2 linked regions of the Homo sapiens genome follow. The protein of the gene in region 1 interacts with the protein of each later gene in a biochemical or structural test. Each region holds a gene or a part of one and is shown on either strand. Other genes may lie near its edges.

Region 1 (2,877 bases):
TGGTGCAGGGGAGGAAATCAAAGAACAGCAGCTCCAGGCTGAAGTCAGGCAGAAGATACAGAAGAAGACTGGACCAGAGCATCCCCCTGGACTTGTTAGAGATGGACTACCTTGCAGAGTGACCTACATCTGCAATGAATAAACTAAACTCACCCCCCTTGGCCCAAGAGCTGCCCCTTTTAACATGAAATCACCAGGGCAAATCCAAACCTGAAGCATTTCTCCTGATCCACAATCACCAGTGACAGAGCTTTCCCTGCTGTCTTTGCTGTGATGTCAGTTACAAAGCCCTGAAGCGTTTCCTTCCCTTTCATAGTGCTGTCCAGGCTTCCCTGCATGAAGGGGCAGAAACTGCATTAATACTTGCTTCCTAGTAAGAGTCAGCCCTCTGTTCCGTGTCCTCCCACCCTCTGGCTCTGCCCACCTGCTTTCCATTGTCGATCATGGACACAAATGCCTCTGCCCGGAGCAACACCAGTACTGTTGGCTCCTCCACCCAGTCCTCTCTGTCCTGCCAAAGTACCCAGAACACAGCACAGGGAGGGAGGTCAGCAGGTATTGAGCACCTGTGAGAGTGGCCCAGGTCTTCTGGGTGAATGAACTAACTCCCACCCCTTATGCATTATCCTTTCTGGAATGAAGTCACTGTGGCAAGAAACAGTGTCGCTGTCCCTCCCAGCCCTCAATGATTCAGTCTTGGTGCCCTGCATCTCAGAGACAGTGAATAAGAAAGGAACATAGCAGCCGGGCGCGGTGACTCACGCCTGTAATCCCAGCACTTTGGGAGGCCGAGGTGGGCAGATCACGAGGTCGGAGATCAAGCCCATCCTGGCCAACACGGTAAAACCCCATCTCTATTAAAAATACAAAAATTAGCTGGGTGTGGCGGTACGTGCCTGTAATCCCAGCTACTCGGGAGACTGAGGCAGGAGAATTGCTTGAAACTGGGAGGTGGAGGTTGCAGTGAGCCGAGATCATAACACTGCACCCCAACCTGGCAACGGGGCTAGACTCCATCAAAAAAAAAAAAAGGAACATAGCAGGCCAGGCACGGTGGCTCACACCTGTAATCCCAATCCCAGCACTTTGGGAGGCCTAGGCGGGCGGATCACCTGAGGTCAGGAGTTCGAGACCAGCCTGGCCAACATGGTGAAACCCCGTCTCTACTAAAAATACAAAAATATTAGCTGGGCGTGGTGGTACACGCCTGTAATCCCAGCTACTTGGGAGGCTGAGGCAGAAGAATCACTTGAACCCAGAAGGCAGAAGCTGCAGTGAGCCGAGACCATGCCATTGCATTCTAGCCTGGGCAGCAGGGTGAAACTCTGTCTCAAAAAAAAAAAAAGAGAGAAAAAAGGAACATAGCAAGTTGAAAGGGGCTGGGGCCATTTTGAATACGGGAATGGAGGGAAGGGAAACTCTTCCAAAGGTTAGTACAAGTAAATGACTCTGGCTTTGAAGGCAGATGCTGTGAGCCGAGTGGTCCTTACAAACAGATAGGTTTTTTTGTGACAAAGACAAGAATCACAAGGGAAACTTCAGTCTATGAGAGTACCTCCTGTTTATCACAGGTAGGGCATAATCAAAGTCAAGGATGCCTCAAGGCCAACAATCCTCCAGCAGTACAGTATTATGGAGTAATTGGGGAACAGGACTTTGATAGAAAGTTTTCTGATTGGGTCCCTATAAGCAAAGCAAGACCTATATTACAGCAAAGTGTAGGTTTGGGGAGCTCTGGGTTCTCATTCCCGTTGTGATCCTCAACAAGGCTTTTAACTTTTCTGAGCCCCAGTTTCCCCACCTGTGATGTGGGGAGAAGTCCTACCCCATAGGATGACTGATGGAAACACAAGAGAGAATGTGGGAGTGCCTTGAGAGGGTAAGCTGCTCTATGAATATAAAGGCTTGCTAATACCCCCAGAGTAAAAAGTGTGGGGAACTGTCCTGTGTTACTGAGAAAGTTATCAGATCCAAAAAAGAAATCAAAGAGAGGAAAAAAAAATCTTTTTTCTTATTTTATACAAGATGCTTCTGGTGAGATAAAAAAGAATCTTAGTGCTAGGCAAGGTGCCTCACACCTGTAATCGCAGCATTTTGAGAGGCTGAGGCAGGTGGATTGCTTGAGCTCAGGAGTTGAAGACCAGCCTGGGCAACATGGCAAAACCCCGTCTCTACCAAAAATACAAGCTACACTCTGCAATCTCTACAAAAAACACAGGGCCCACATGTCTTCTGGCTCCCAGCTGGGTGTCACCAGCAGGGACCCGAGGAGAGGACTAGTGGGAAGGAGAAAAGTGAAGTCAGGGTATTTTTCCCCTGGCTCCCTCCCAGTGGGGTCACCTAGGGTTTGCTGTCCCCCTCTGTGGCAGCTCATAGCTTCGCTCAAGGTGGTCCTCTCTCCATTTCTCTCTCCTGAATTCTGTTAACCACTCCTTCCCCTCATCCCTTCAGGCATAGGGATGGTAACAGCTATGCCAATGGTTCTCAACCGGGGGTGATTTTTCCCCACAAATGACATCTGGCAGTGTCTGCAGACATTTTTTATTGTCATGACTGAGAGGGGTACATTAGTAGATAGTGGCCAGGAATGCTGCTAAACATTGTGCACATCATAGGACAGCACCCAAAACAAAGAATTCTCCAATCTAAAATGTCAACAATACTGAGGTCGAAAAACCTAAGTTGTGCTGTTATTACTGTGAGGTACCATGCTGTCACTGGTAGTTTCCTCATACCCTGCCCATGCCTTGGCAAACAGTCCCTTTATTCAATCTTCTTTTAATTACCCTGAGTTGAATGTGCCATCTGTCTTCCTGCTGGGGCCCTGATAAGTATCCTTTAAAATAAAAGCATATTTATCCTGTAATTGTAAGGGGA
Region 2 (3,959 bases), on another chromosome or scaffold:
CCCAGGGCAAGTCCTCTACTCACTCACAATTACCGGGAGCTCAGTAGAAGGCACCCATCGTCCATTATTTTATTAAATATTTAGGCCGGGCACGGTGGCTCATGCCTGTAATACCAGCATTTTGGGAGGCTTAGGTGGGCAGGATCACCTGAGGTCAGGAGTTTGAGACCAGCCTGGCCAACATGGTTGAAACCCCATCTCTACTAAAAATACAAAAATTAGCCAGGCGCGGTGGCAGGCGCGTGTAATCCCAGCTACTCTGGAGGCTGAGGAAGGAGAATTGCTTGAAACCAGGAGGCAGAGGTTGCAGTGAGCTGAGATCGCGCCACTACACTCCAGCCTGAGCGACAGAGTAAGACTCTGTCTCAAAAAAAAAATAAATAAATAAATAAAAAGAAAATTTCTGGGCCATCGGCTCAGTGCAGGACTTTGTTCTACAGCAGTGATAAGTGCTGCCCTCTGATAGTGCAGTGTGGCAGTTGGGGTGGGAGAGGCTAATGAGATCAAGAAAACACGTAGCATGCCAGACAATAGTAAGTGTTAAGGGAAAGGGGGTGCAGAAAAGTGCACACAAGAATGAGCTGCAGTTCATTACATTGTTTTAGAGACAGGGTCATGTCCAGGCATGGTGGCTCACGCCTATAATCCCAGCACTCTGGGAGGCCGAGGCGGGCAGATCACTTGAGGTCAGGAGTTTGAGACCAGCCTGCCCAACATGGCGAACCCCATCCCTACTAAAAACACAAACATTCGGCAGGTGTGGTGGCACACTTGGGAGGTTGAGATAGGAGAATCGCTTGAACCCAGGAGGCGGAGCTTCCAGTGAGCTGAGATCACTGCACTCCAGCCTCCGCAACAGAGCAAGACTCTGTCTAAAAAAAAAAAAAGGGCCGGGCGCGGTGGCTCATGCCTGTAATCCCAGCACTTTGGGAGGCTGAGGCGGGCGGATCACGAGGCTAGGACATCGAGACCATCCTGGCTAACACGGTGAAACCCCGTCTCTACTAAAAATACAAAAAATTAACCAGGCGTGGTGGCGGGCGCCTGTAGTCCCAGCTACTCGGGAGGCTGAGGCAGGAGAATGGCGTGAACCCAGGAGGCGGAGCTTGCAGTGAGCAGAGATCGCGCCACTGCACTCTAGCCTGGGCGACAGAGCTAGACTCCATCTCAAAAAAAAAAAAAAAAAAAAGAGGGTCATGCTCTGTCGACCACACTGGAGTGCAGCGGAGTACTGATGGCCTAGGGAAGAACCTTTTCTTTGAAGGGGAAATGGTGAAGGCCCTGAGCAGGGCCTGCTTTGCTCAGGAATGGCCGTAAGTCCTATAGCATCAGCATCTTAGAGATGGGGATAGGGTGGCCAAAGCGTGTCAGTGGGTTTCCCTCAAGAAAGAGCTGGATCCGAAGTCGTCTGGACTCTAGAGCCATCCATTCCTCGGGGGGACCTCACCTGGATGGTCTGGGCGCACAGGGAGCAGCAGGCCCCTGGATCCCCCTGGTCTGGCTCAGGCTCCGCGTCATCAAAGGGACCTGCGCGGCGCCTTGGGGCCGGGGCCTGGGGCGGTGGAGGCCCGAAGGCCAGAGGCACGTGCGGCGGCGGCGGGAGGCAGAGGTCCTGGCGGAGGTCTGGGCGCACCCAGCGCAGCGTGAGCGGGAGGCGAGCCCAGGGCGGTGCGCGCAGCATGTGCGCCAGCACGCGCAGGTGGAAAGCGAAGGCTGTCTCTCCTCGCAGGCGAGGCCCCACGTGCGCCAGGCGGCGCGAGGCGTGCGGGTGCTGCCAAGCCCACTCAAACTGCGGGCGGCGTACAGGGGCATCAGGGCGGCTCGGAGCGAGGGGCGGAACCCAAGCCCTCACCCGGCCGCCGCTGCCCGGTCTCCTTCCTTACCCGAAGGGCGGCCACGGAGGACGGGAAGCCGTGCACGACGAGCACCATCTCCCTGAGGAGGAGAACGGTGATGTCCCTGTCGCAGCCCAGCGCCTCAGCCGCGGGTCCCCTCCAATCCCACCCGAGAGCGGGGTCCTCATTCCCGGCTTCAGCCGAGAAGTGCAGCCCTCTGCACCTGCCCACCTCAGGCCCTGCCTCCAGCCCAGGTACCCACCTGTCCCACCTCCTCTCTCTCCTGCATTCCACCCGACCCCAGCGTGCCCACCAAGAGCCCTATGCTGGAACCCAGCCTGGATCATCACCCCCGCCCCAGCTAGCTCCTTCCCTGAGTTCCGCCGCGGAGATGCCCCGGGCACCGCCTCCCCGTCACGCTCCTCCCCTGCGACAGGCCCCGTCCCCACCACAGACGCCCCGCCTCTGTCACAGTCCTGGCCGGTCCTTCTCAACAGGCCTGTGCCCCGCGGGGTCCGCCTCCTCTGGGACGCCTTCCTCCCGGCACAGAAGGCCTCCCCCTCTCACCAGGGCCCTCGCCCGCTGGTCCGCCAGGCCCCGCCTTTTTTGCGGCCCCCATTGTGCTGCTGGACCCGACGAGCAGTGTTGACAGTGAACCCCACGTAGACGCGGCCCCGGTACCGGGGGTTCAGGCAGTAGAGCAGGTAGACGCCGAAAAAGCGCCCTGGCCTCGCCGCGACCCCCGCGGGACCCATCGGGCCTTGGGGTTCGGGAACCACAGCAGGGGGTTGATTGCCGTGACCTAGGGTCCAGGGGAGGGCTGGATCGCTAGGGCTGCAGGGTGCTTGCTTCGGAACAAGCTCTCGGGGACTATCCGGAGGCAGCCTGCAGGAAGCCGTAGCGCCGGTACGTGCCCCTCTCCTGTCTGGAGGCGGGTGTAGAAGTCCGACCGCGGAAGCCAGACTGCTGTCCAGTCGGCGAGCGCGTACCATTCAGCATCGGCTCCGCCCGAGTCCCACCTTCCTCAGGCTCTGATTGGCTGACACATGGCAAGCGCGAAAAGCCTGGACCGCTGGAAAGCCCGGCTGCTTGAGGGCGGAAGTACTGCGTTGACGTACGCCTTAGTAAGGGCGGAAGTGAGTTTTCCAGCGGAAGTGGCTCCTGTAAGGCAGCAAGGTAGCGTGGCCGGCGCCCGAGCTGGGGTTGTGTCCCTGCTGGGCTGCCGTTCCAGCTGGACTGCCGCCATGGAACTCAGCGCCGAATACCTCCGCGAGAAGCTGCAGCGGGACCTGGAGGCGGAGCATGTGGTGAGTTGAGCCGCCGGACAAGGGGAAAAGAGCTCGGGGGGCGGGTTCGGCACCATTCATATTCTTCCGCTCGGTAGGAGGTGGAGGACACGACCCTCAACCGTTGCTCCTGTAGCTTCCGAGTCCTGGTGGTGTCGGCCAAGTTCGAGGGGAAACCGCTGCTTCAGAGACACAGGTAAGGCCCTGGGAGCACCTTGCCTAGCTCCTGTACCACAACCCCAGCCACTCCCCCTACCCCTGCAACCTGACTCCCGCACTCCCCCTGGCGTGGCTCAGGGACCTTGAGGATCCCGCCTTCGTGACCCCTGCTTCGAGTATTTCGATGTAGACCCTCTCTCCAAGTACGTGTTCCCACGGCCTGGGGACTACAACCTTGGGGACACCAGTCTCTTGGGTCACCCTAGCCTCGGGGTGTGCGATCACCGCTGGCCTTTTCCTAACCCCATCTCTCGCCCCAGGCTGGTGAACGCGTGCCTAGCAGAAGAGCTCCCGCACATCCATGCCTTTGAACAGAAAACCCTGACCCCAGACCAGTGGGCACGTGAGCGACAGAAATGAGGGACTGGGATCTGCACAGCCATTAAATTATAAATCTGGACCAGCTTCTGTGTCGATGTGTGTGTGGGAGGGGTGCTGAGGCCGAGTCTAGGACCTGGCCTCTCCCTGCCCTGCCTCCGTCCATTGTTTTACCTTGGACACGTCTCTGTCCCCATCTAGGCCTCTATCCCTGCTTGTAAAATGAAAGTTCTACCGTAAAAGTCCCTTCCAGGGTCTACCGAGAAAGCCTTCTCTCTGCAACTCCGTTTAGACATCTAGG

Evidence for each region. The genes of interacting proteins can lie anywhere in the genome.
Region 2: the proteins of EME1 (region 1) and SLX1A form a complex in vitro, tested with the Homo sapiens proteins (one study listed by BioGRID).

The regions. Positions count from the first base shown.
Region 1 is NC_000017.11:50,376,229-50,379,105, reverse strand, and holds part of EME1 (structure-specific endonuclease subunit EME1), read right to left. Parts: intron 512-2,877; coding exon 425-511; intron 333-424; coding exon 211-332; intron 39-210; coding exon of another isoform or gene 1-38. UniProt on the Homo sapiens protein: Non-catalytic subunit of the structure-specific, heterodimeric DNA endonuclease MUS81-EME1 which is involved in the maintenance of genome stability. In the complex, EME1 is required for DNA cleavage, participating in DNA recognition and bending.
Region 2 is NC_000016.10:30,192,716-30,196,674, reverse strand, and holds the start of SLX1A (structure-specific endonuclease subunit SLX1), read right to left. Parts: upstream 2,801-3,959; 5' UTR 2,591-2,800; coding exon 2,403-2,590; intron 2,243-2,402; exon of another isoform or gene 1,936-2,242; coding exon 1,884-1,935; intron 1,790-1,883; coding exon 1,448-1,789; intron 1-1,447. Other genes in the region: BOLA2B (bolA-like protein 2), read left to right, coding at 3,080-3,142, 3,220-3,317, 3,601-3,700. UniProt on the Homo sapiens protein: Catalytic subunit of the SLX1-SLX4 structure-specific endonuclease that resolves DNA secondary structures generated during DNA repair and recombination.